Linked DNA regions of Homo sapiens: region 1 is linked to region 2. Evidence: fine-mapped expression QTL. A gene starts in region 2. The other region holds a variant in brackets. All regions are shown on one strand. Distances are from middle to middle. Region 1 overlaps KRI1 (KRI1 homolog). Region 2 holds the start of SLC44A2 (solute carrier family 44 member 2 (CTL2 blood group)).

Region 1 (5,367 bases), 69 kb before region 2:
CCATAGGTCACTGCAGCCTCCAACTCCTGGGCTCAAGCGATCTTCTCGCTTGAGTCTCCCAAAGTGCTGGGATTATAGGTTGGAGCACACACCTGGCCTCATTTTAGCTCTAAATAAACTGTGTGCATCTATCACCCCTGCCTTCTAGACTGGGCGAAAGCAATCCTAATAACAGCTAAGACCTATGGGGCATTTACCATATCTTAATCACTTTACGAGAATTAACTCATTTCATCCTCTGCAACTTGATAAGGCAGAACCGTCTCTATCTCCATCTTATGAGAAAGAGGCCCAGAGAGGGGTAGCGACTTGCCCAAGGTCACACAACGTTGGTGCCCATATAGGATTCGAACCCAGGTCTCAGAGCGGGGGGCGCTGCATTCCCAAAGTCATGCAACAAGAGGTTGACGGAGCCAAGACTCAAGCCTGGGCCTGACAGGCTCCCCACCCACGCTTCCCCAGCCAGCACTGCTTACTCTTCTCGGCAGAGTGACTTGAAGACCTGCCGCTTTTTCCATGAGTTCTGGGCCTTCTGGCTGTACGCCCGCTTGTCCCGCAGCTCCTCCTGCTCTGACCTGCAGACAGATGCCCCTGTGTTGGGTGCTCTGGGAAGTGCCCGAGGCTGCCCGCCCTGCCCCCTGCGCATGTGGCCCCGCCGCGCCCCGCCCCATCACCTGTACATGCAGGTCTTCTTTAGGGAGCACCACCGGTTCAGCTCCTTATCGTCAGCAGCGAGGATCTGCGTGGGAAGGGAGAGTGGGGACCTGCTGTGATATTGCCCAGGCGGGGCCTTCCCTGAGCCTAAGTCATGTCATTAGTCAAAACGGTAATGCCGCTACCACCCAGCAGGGTTGCCATGATGGCCAGAGACAGCTGATCTCTACAGAGGCCAATGATTTTTGTAGAGGTCAGCAGATGGGGTAACTGAGGCTCAGAGAACGGATCCTTGCCCTAGGCCAGATGGCTGGGAAGTTGGCTGAATTGATTCCAGTTTGAGCCTCAGGGCCCTTGAGCTGTCACCCATACCCGGCCATCCCCAAAGCCTCAGAACGGGCAGGGGTCGCTGCCAACCACCAGGCTTCCTAATTACATATGAAACTGTCATTCCCAGCCTCTAGGCCTGTTTCCAAACCTACTGGAAGGCCATCAGAAAGAGGAAGTGATTGAATGCCGATGGTATAAGCTTAGTACACATCGGCTATTTTTACTGACCATGAAAATGGTCGTGCACCTTCAGCCGTCATCAGTCAGGCATAGTAGGTACCCACAGCCTGCCAGGTGCCACACACTTTGGTCTCATTTCTGTTCCTTCCATAGTCACCAAAGTTGGGGTGCTATCAATTATTGTCTCACTTTACAGATGGGGAGTTGAGGCACAGATAGGGGAATCATTTGTCCAAAGACTCAGCTGGTGAGCAGCCAAGCCAGGGCTTGAACCCACCTAGGCCCCCTGGTTCCAGAGGACACCAAGTCTTTTGTTGAGACAGGGTCTCACTATGTCACCCAGGCTGGAGTGCAGTGGCAGGCTCACAGCTCACAGCAGCCTCAACCTCCTGGACTCAAGCAACCCTCCTACCTCAGCCTCCCAAGTAGCTAGGACTAGATCTCCCTATGTTGCTCAGGTTAGTCTCAGAACTACTGGGCTCAAGTGATCCTCCTGCTTCAGCCTCCCAGAGTACTGGGATTACAGGTGTGAGCCAGTGTGACCAGCCCTGCTACCAAGTCTTACCAGCCAGACTGCTGCTAATACATACTGACAGGAATAAAATAATATTGGCTGGGCCTGGTGGCTCACACCTGTAATCCCAGCACTTTGGGAGGCTGAGGCAGGCAGATCACATGAGGCCAGGAATTTGGGATCAGCCTGGCCAATATGGTAAAACTTATCTCTACTAAAAATACAAAAATTAATTGGGCATGATGGCACATGCCTGTAGTTCCAGCTACTTGGGAGGCTAAGGCAGGAGAATCATTTGAACCTGGGAGGCGGAGTTTGCAGTGAGCTGAGTTTGCACCACCGCATGCCGGCCTGGGTGACAGAGCAAGACACTGTCCCAATCAACCAATCAAAAAATAAACAAAAATAAAAAGTAATATTGGCTGGGTGTGGTGGCTCACACGCAGAATCCCAGCACTTTGGGAGGCCAAAGCAGGAAGCTTGTTTAGGCCCAGGGAGTTCGAGACCAGCCTGCACAACACAGTAAAACATCATCTGTACAAAAAATATTTTTAATTAAAAAAAATTAATTGGGCATGGTGGCACATGCCTGTAGTCCCAGCTACTTGGGAGGCTGAGGTAGGAGGATCAATTGAGCCCAGGAGGTTGGCACCACTGCACTCCAGCCTGGGTGACAGAGCGAGACTATGTCTCAAAAAAAAGAAGTAATATTTACGGGGCGTGCCATAGGTGAGGCACTGTTTTAAGCCCCCACCTTGTAGAAGGTAGTAATATTACCTTTGAGGTGAGGTAATGTTATTAGCACTGTCATTAGGACTATTAGCATTTCTTTTTTTTTTTTTTTGGCGCTCTGTCACCTAGGCTGGAGTGCAGTGGTGCAATCTCGGCTCATTGCAACCTCTGCCTCCTGGGTTCAAGCGATTCTCCTGCCTCAGCCTCCCAAGTAGCTGGGACTACAGGCGCCTGCCACCATGCCTGGCTAATTTTTTTGTATTTTTAGTAGAGACGGAGTTTCACCACGTTGGCCAGGCTGGTCTCGAACTCCTGACCTCAGGTGATCCACTTGCCTCGGTCTCCCAAAGTGCTGCGATTACAGGCATGAGCCACTGCGCCCAACCGAATATTATCATTTTCAAGATGAAGAAACAGCCTGCCATGTTGTGGCATTTCTGAGCAACAGAGATTGGGACTCAGGGCCAGCTTTCTACCCCTTCGGCATACCTGGTGCCCCCTGCAGTGTCCCTGCCTGCCCGGGGCCCCTACCTCCTCAGTGCTGAGGCCAAAGTCACAGGGCACCACTGTGCGGTACTTGAAGCGACAGGGCAGGTCGTCGATGATGTCCTCGTAGTCCAGCCGGTAATACTCATCCAGGTACTCCTCGAACGTCTTGTCCCCTGCTCGAGACAGAGCCAGGCTGCTGGGCTATGCCAGGCCCCGCGGTGCCCCCTGCCTACCCACGGCCTGCCCACCTGGGCCTCACCGGGTTC[A/G]AACACGGGCTTCTCCTGCCCCACGGCCGCGGCGAAGGGCGACTTGCGCTTCTTCTTGCCCGTCAAGGGGGCCTCGCGCTTTTTCTTCCTCGGCTGGCTGGGGTCGTAGTCGGCGTCCATCTGCCAGGACGCACAGGTCAGATCCCACCAGCCCCCCGTCAGGGCCCCTGGGACTCCCTCAACCCGTGATACCTACGTTGAAGTTGGGGTCCTCACAGTGCAGCTCCTGCTGGCTCCAGTCTCCCTCCTGCTCAGGCCCGTCCCACGTGTCCCAGTTCCAGTCGTCTGGATGCAGGGAGAACAGACAGGTGGGGCCAGGGTGGGACCTTGGGCTTCAGTCCCAGTCCCCAGTCCCCAATCCCCAGCCCAGTGCCCCAGCTGATCTCACCTTCAAGCCCTTCTTCTTCCTCAAATTGTGGCTTCTCCTCCTCCACGGCCCCGTAGTACTCGTCCCCAAAGCACTTCTGCAGGGTCAGGGCTGGCGGTTACCAGAGCCCACTCGAGACATAGGAGCTGAGCCCCCTACGATGCCGCCAATGACCCCCTCCTTGGCAACTTTACTCCTACAGCTAGGGCTCCCTACAGCCCTCCCAGCACCTAGCTCCTGAGGTGGGAGGCCCTGCATGTCCAGGATCCTCCGCCAACTCCCCTGCTGTCTACCCTGTGATGTACTGGCCGCCATTCAGTTCCACATATCCACAGTTCTTCGCCGTCCTACCCACCTTCGCCCCTGTGGTGCCCACCACCTGGTGCACTACTCAGGCCCCAGGTCTTTTTTTTTTTTGAAACAGAATTTCGCTCTTGTTGCCCAAGCAGGAGTGCAATGGCACTATCTCGGCTCACTGCAACCCTTGCCTCCCGGTTTCAAGCGATTCTCCTGCCTCAGCCTCCGGAATAGCTGGGATTACAGGCATGTGCCACCACGCCCGGCTAAGATCTTTTTTTTTTGAGACAGCGTCTCACCCAGTAGCCCATGCTGGAGTACAATGGCGAGATCTTGGCTCACTACAACCTCCACCTCCCGGGTTCAAGCGATTCCCTGCCTCAGCCTCCCGAGTAGCTAGGATTAGAGGTGCACGCCACTACACCCTGGCTAATTTTTTGTATCTTTAGTAGAGATGGGGATTCTCCATGTTGGCCAGGATGGTCTCAATCTCCTGACCTCGTGATCCGCCTGCCTCGGCCTCCCAAAGTGCTGGGATTACAGGTGTGAGCCACTGCACCCGGCCAGGTCTTTTTTTTTTTTTAAAACAGAGGCTCCCTCTGTCGCCCAGGCTGGAATGCAGTGGCATGATCTCGGCTTACTGCAACCTCTGCCTCCCGGGTTCAAGCAATTCTCCTGCCTCAGCCTCTCAAGTAGCTGAGATTACAAGCATACACCACCACACCTGGCTAATTTTTGTATTTTTAGTAGAGATGAGGTTTTACCATGTTGGCCAGGCTGATCTCGAACTCCTGACCTCAGGTGATCTGCCTGCCTTAGCCTCCCAAAGTGCTGGGATTACAGGCGTGAGCCACCGTGGCCAGTGAGAGCCATGTTTGTGTGAACTCAGCGTCATGTTGGGCCGGGATGAGGGCCGCACCTGCATGAGCTGGTCGTGCTGGGCAGGGTCGAAGTCGTCTTCAAGGTCCCCCTCCTCGAGGCCCAGCATCTCGTTGCCTGTTACTTTCCGCAGCTTCTCCAGCTTGGCCAGAATCTCCTTCCTCTTCAGGTTCTTCAGCTGCTTGAGCTCTTCCTGCTTCTTTGCTTTCTCCTGCAGGCCCAGGCAGAGAGGGGGAGGGCATGGGCTTTCCTCCAGGGCTGGGGGGTCCTCCCCAGCTCACCCCCCACACTCACCCTCTTCTTTCGCTCCCGAGTCTCTTCCCTCTTCTCCTTTCTGCGCTCATCCTTACGGCGCACGGAGGACGCGATGCTGCGTGGGTAGGTCTTGACCTAGGCGCAATCAGAAAAGCCCACAAGGGCCGCAGAGATGATGTGGGGTTCCCTGGGCCTGAACCCTGGGGGCTGAGTCCTCCCCAGCCCCAGCCACACACCGATGCTGAGTCCGGCTCCTCGAAACGGAAATTGTACTTCTGTTCAAAGTCCTCCTGTTTCTTCAGAAACAGCTCCCCTTCGTCTGAGGAGTCGTCCACAGCCAGCTGGACTGGGGGACCGTGGACCCTGAGGGGCAAGATGTGGTGATGCCAGGGGGCCAGCCAAGT
Region 2 (5,367 bases):
GAGTCCTAGAGTCTAAGGCAGCAGCTACAATTATTGGACACCAAATGTATATGATCACGCTGACTGTATAACCTCATGCTGTCTGTGTACACCCAGCACTAAATGTATATTCCTGCTGAGGATACCTCCACACCACCTGTATAATGCCATGTTAACCAAATAATTGGCTGCACTATAAATATCTATAAATATTCAAGTAGAGGCAGGTTGTGGCGTGGTGACTCGTGCCTGCAATCCCAGCACTTTGGGAGGTTGAGGTGGGAGGATTGCTTAAGGCCAGGAGTTTGAGCCCAGCCTGGGTAACACAGTGAGATCCTGTCTCTATTTTTATTGTATTGTATTTTTTTTTTTTTTTGAGGCGGAGTCTCGCTCTGTCGCCCAGGCTGGAGTACAGTGGCATAATCTCGGCTCACTGCAACCTCTACCTCCCAGGTTCAAACGATTCTCCTACTTCAGCCTCCCCAGTAGCTGGGATTACAGGTGCCCACCACCACACCTGGCTAATTTTTGTATTTTTAGTACAGACAGGGTTTTGCCTTGTTGGCCAGGCTGGTCTTGAACTCCTGACCTCAGTGATCTGCCCGCCTCGGCCTCCCACAGTGCTGGGATTACAGGCATGAACCACCACACCCGGCTAATTTTTGATTTATTGATTGATTGATTTTTTGAGACACTCGCTCTGTCACCCAGGCTGGAGTGCAGTGGCACGATCTCGGCTCATTGCAACCTCCGCCTCTCGGGTTGAAGTGATTCTCCTGCCTCAGCCTCCCAAGTAGCTGGGACTACAGGTGCACACCACAACATCCAGCTAATTTTTGTATTTTTAGTACAGACGGGGTTTCACCAAGTTGGCCAGGATGGTCTCGATCTCTTGACCTCATGATCCGCCCACCTCGGCCTCCCAAAGTGCTGGGATTATAGGTGTTAGCCACCACACCCAGCCTATTTTCTTTTTTCTTTTTCTTTTTGGAGACAGAGTCTCACTCTGTCCCCCAGGTTGGAGTGCAGTGAGGCAATCTTGGCTCACTGCAACCTCCACCTCCTGGGTTTAAGCGATTCTCCTGCCTCAGCTTCCCAAGTAGCTGGGATTACAGGCATGTGCCACCACACTGGCTAATGTTTGTATTTTTAGTAGAGAAGGGGTTTCACCATGTTGGCCAGGCTGGCTTAGAAATCCTGATCGACCTGCCTCAGCCTCCCAGAGTGCTGGGATTACAGGCATGAGCCACTGCACCTGGCCTATGCCTGCTCTTTGAGGTCAGTTTTGGTTTCATACTTTAGCCTCATTTTGCAGTTGAGGAAACTGAGGCTTAAGGAAGATAAGCCCTTTGTTAAGTATCCTCTAGTTCAGAGGGTGCAGAAGGAGCATTTGAATTCAGGGCGACCCAGGAGGATGTGGGCTCCACAAGGGTGGAGATTGGGTCTCTCTGGTTCCTCACTGTATGCGGTGCCCCGCCCAAGGCCTGCACCCACTAAGGGCTGAATAAATACTTGTTCTAAGACCAGGCCCAGTAGTGCACGCAGGTAATCCCAGCACTTTGGGGGGCCACGGTGGGAGGAGCCCACGAGTCCAGGAGTTAAAGATGAGCCTGGGCAACATAGCAACATCCCATCTCTACAAAAAAAATTAAAAATTAGCCGAGTGCAGTAGAGCACCTGTAGTCCCAGCTACTCAGGAGGCTTAGTCAGGAGGATGGCTTGAGGCAGGGAGGTCGAGACTGCGATGAGCTGTGATTGCACCACTGCACTCCAGCCTGGGCAACAGAGGGAGATCCTGTCTCAAAAAAAAAAAGCAGCAGACAGAAAGAAAACTAATTTCCTGCACAGCTTGGAGAAGTTTTCAGCACCAACATTCCACAGTTGGTTGTCTGGGTTTGGGCAGTAGGCCGTTTTCCCTCCCAGTGCCTCAGTTTCCACACCTGCAAAACGAAGCCACGGAAACGCCCTTTCAGGGTGGCCAGGGGTTCTAGGCGGCATCGCCCGGTGGCAGGGTGTTCCCAGGGTGAAGCCGCAGGGTTCCCGGGTGGGGGCGGGGAAGGCTAAATGCGGCCGGCCGGTGAGTGGCGGGAGCAGCTGCAGCCCCGCCCGCGCCCTCCCGGGTCCCTTAGTCTGGGCAGCTGCCCAGCTCGGGCCGGTCTGACCGGTTTGGGCCGCCCCGCCTGGCGCTGTGCTGGGAGGAGCCGCCGCCAGTCGCGCGGTCAGTGCCTCCCTCCAGACTCGGGAGGGTCGAGGGGGCGCGGGAGAGAGCGCGGGCGGCCGCCGGGGCTGGTCGCCTGCAGGGATGGGGGACGAGCGGCCCCACTACTACGGGAAACACGGTAGGCAGCGACCCCCGCCCGTAGCCCCGGGCCGACCCCTCGGTCCCTCGGAGGGGGCCTTGAGAGAACATGGGGCGCAGGGAAGGGGGCTGGAGGGGGAGCGCAATTGCAAATCTGCGCCTGGAGCCTCCCCACCATCAGCCAGGCCCCTTCACCCCACTTATCCCCCGCAGCCTCGCAGACGACCCTCCTTACTCTCCCCTACCCGAAGGACCTGCCCCTGTACCCCTCTGCCTGGCACTGCTGCCGGCGCCTCCTTCCCCCTATCCCACCTCAGATCTTCCCCATCTCCACCTGGTTCCGTGGTGGTCACCATTTCAGCCCTCTTCCCAGTGGGTGGCCGCCAGTTAATAAGTTTGTTCACAGTTAGTGATCCCTCCTTCCTCCCCTGTCCTGGCCTGCCAGAACTGGGGGCTTGGGTGTGGTCACCTGGAGGTGGGTGAGGCAGAAAATTCCACAGGTCTCTGAATTTTATTCTTGCCAAGGCAAAGACACCCCTAGGGGCTTTTGGGAGGGGGCTCTCCCAGCCCTGTCTTGGTTCAGGTCTCCAATCCCATCCATCTTAATCTTCTTGACTTTCAGGAACGCCACAGAAGTATGATCCCACTTTCAAAGGACCCATTTACAATAGGTAAGAGCTCTGGGTTTTGGGGGGTTCTCCCCGCTAATACTACCCCAATCCCTGTCTCTTCACACCCCCTCCCATCTGTTCTCCAACAAACTGGTGACAAATATTTGAAACTTTTTTTTTTTTTTGAGATGGAGTCTTGCTCTGTCACCAGGCTGGAGTGCCGTGGCGCGATCTCAATCTCGGCTCACTGCAACCTTCGCCTCCCGGGTTCGAGCAATTCTCCCACCTCAGTCTCCCAAGTAGCTGGGATTACAGGCTTGCACCACCACACCTGGCTAATTTTTTTTTTTTTTTGTACTTTTAGCAGAGATGTTTCGCTGTGTTGCCCATGCTGGTCTCGACCTCGTGAGCTCAAAGCGATCCACCTGCCTTGGCCTCCCAAAGTGCTGGGATTACAGGTGTGAGTTACCACACCTGGCCTGGACTTAATTTTTACCATGTTTATATTTATTTATTTATTTATTTATTTTTGAGATGGAGTCTCACTCTGTCACCCAGGCTGGAGTGGTGCAATCTCAGCTCACTGCAACCTTCCCCTCCTGGTTCAAGCACGTCTTCTGTCTCAGCCTCTCCAGTAGCTGTGACTACTCAGAGGCTACTCAGAAGGCTGAGGCAGGAGAATTGCTTGAATCTGGGAGGTGGAGGTTGCAGTAAGCTGAGATTGCGCCACTGCACTCCAGCCTGGAGGACAAGAGCGAGACTCTGTCTCAAAAAAAAATAACAAAAAAATAAAATACAGCCAGGCACGGTGGCTCACACCTATAATCCCAGCACTTTGGGAGGCCAAGGCAGGTGGATCACTTGAGGTTAGGAGTTCGAGACCAGCCTGGCTAACATGGTGAAACCCTGTCTCTACTAAAAATACAAGAATTAGCTGGGCATGGTGGCGGGCACCTATAATCCCAGCTACTTGGGAGACTGAGGCAGGAGAATCGCTTGAACCTGGGAGGTAGAGGTTGCAGTAAGCTGAGATCGTTCCACTGCACTCCAGCCTGGGCGACAGAGTGAGATTCCCTCTCAAAAAAAAAAAAAAAGTCTAGCTTGGGCAACATAGCGAGACCTTGTCTCTACAGAATGTATATAAATTAAAAAAAAAATGTGTGGTGGTGTGCACCTGTAGTCTCAACTACTTGGGAAGCTGAGGCAGGAGGATCACTTGAGCCCAGGAGTTCGAGGCTGTAGTGAGCTATGATCATGCCACTGTACTCCAGCCTGGATGACGGAGTGAGACTCTGTTGCACAAAATTAAAAAATGAAATGAAATAAAAATTAAAATGCATGTGCCCTTTGGTACGGCATTCAAACGACTCAGGAAAATTTGTCCAAATAACACATGGATGAGGGTGTTTGCAGAGGGCAGATGGGCCCATGGTGCACACAGCACCAAGCCTCCTCCAAACACTGCCCCTCTGCTCCCCAGGGGCTGCACGGATATCATATGCTGTGTGTTCCTGCTCCTGGCCATTGTGGGCTACGTGGCTGTAGGCATCATAGGTGAGTAGAGAATGAGCAGGACTTGGAGTTGCAGGGTAGGCGGAGGCAGCCATGGCCTCTGGAGTGGGAACAGGGCTGGATCTGAGGAGTGGCAGTGTCTCAGTATCCCTGGATCTTTCCACAGCCTGGACTCATGGAGACCCTCGAAAGGTGATCTACCCCACTGACAGCCGGGGCGAGTTCTGCGGGCAGAAGGGCACAAAAAACGAGTGAGTTGACTCCTTGCGGCCTGGTGGGGCTGGGGAAGAGGGGGCAGAAGATTCTAGGCATTCCCCATCTCTCTAAGTCCAGTTAACAAGTGCTTATAGGCTGGGCGCGGTGACTCACGCCCGAAATTCCAACACTTTGGGAGGCCGAGGCAGGAATATTGCTTTAGGCTAGGAGTTCGAGACCAGCCTGGCCAACATGGCAAAACCCCGTCTCCACTAAAAATACACAAATTAGCCAGGCATGGTGGCACATGCCTGTAATCCCAGCTACTCAGGAGGCTGAGGCAGGAGAATCACTTGAACCACAGGAGGCAGAAGTTGCAATGAGCCGAGATCGTGCCACTGCACTTTAGCCTGGGGCACAGAGTGAGACTCTGTCTCAAAACAAACAAGCAAAAATTAAGTGGACGTGGTGGGGCACACCTCTAGTCCCAGCTACCCAGCAGGCTGAGGTGGGAGGATAGCTTGAGCTGGGAGGCCAAGGCTGCAGTAAGGTATGATTGTACCATTGCACTCCAGCCTGGACGACAGAGCGAGACCTGGTCTCAACAAAACAACAAGAAAAGAAAACAAGTACTGATAAACGTCCCACTACCCTCAGCCACTAGTCTAGTCCTTGGGGACACACAGCTCTAAATGAGATAGTAAGCATCCTGTTCTCTGGCAGCACACATTTTAAGGGCGGGAGAGACTGAGAGGGGACAGTCCTGGATTA

The links. PIP is the estimated chance that this variant, and not a neighbour inherited with it, causes the effect. A credible set is the group of variants that fine-mapping cannot tell apart.
Region 1: its variant is the best candidate, but not a certain one, in a credible set for the expression of SLC44A2 in whole blood (INTERVAL, PIP 0.60).

What each region holds. Positions count from the first base shown.
Region 1 is chr19:10,554,611-10,559,977 of GRCh38, forward strand. KRI1 (KRI1 homolog) reads right to left here. Exons shown (of 19, transcript NM_023008.5): 10 at 5,200-5,326; 11 at 5,003-5,098; 12 at 4,749-4,919; 13 at 3,554-3,629; 14 at 3,362-3,450; 15 at 3,159-3,285; 16 at 2,942-3,072; 17 at 675-739; 18 at 477-575. Among named protein-coding and RNA genes, the nearest start is that of MIR1238, 5.2 kb to the left of the region's middle. The variant A/G (reference allele first, on the strand shown) is at 3,166.
Region 2 is chr19:10,623,353-10,628,719 of GRCh38, forward strand. It overlaps SLC44A2 (solute carrier family 44 member 2 (CTL2 blood group)), which reads left to right and starts at 2,201. Exons shown (of 22, transcript NM_020428.4): 1 at 2,201-2,318; 2 at 2,901-2,949; 3 at 4,370-4,443; 4 at 4,568-4,652. The coding sequence starts at 2,282. RefSeq lists an enhancer at 659-1,240.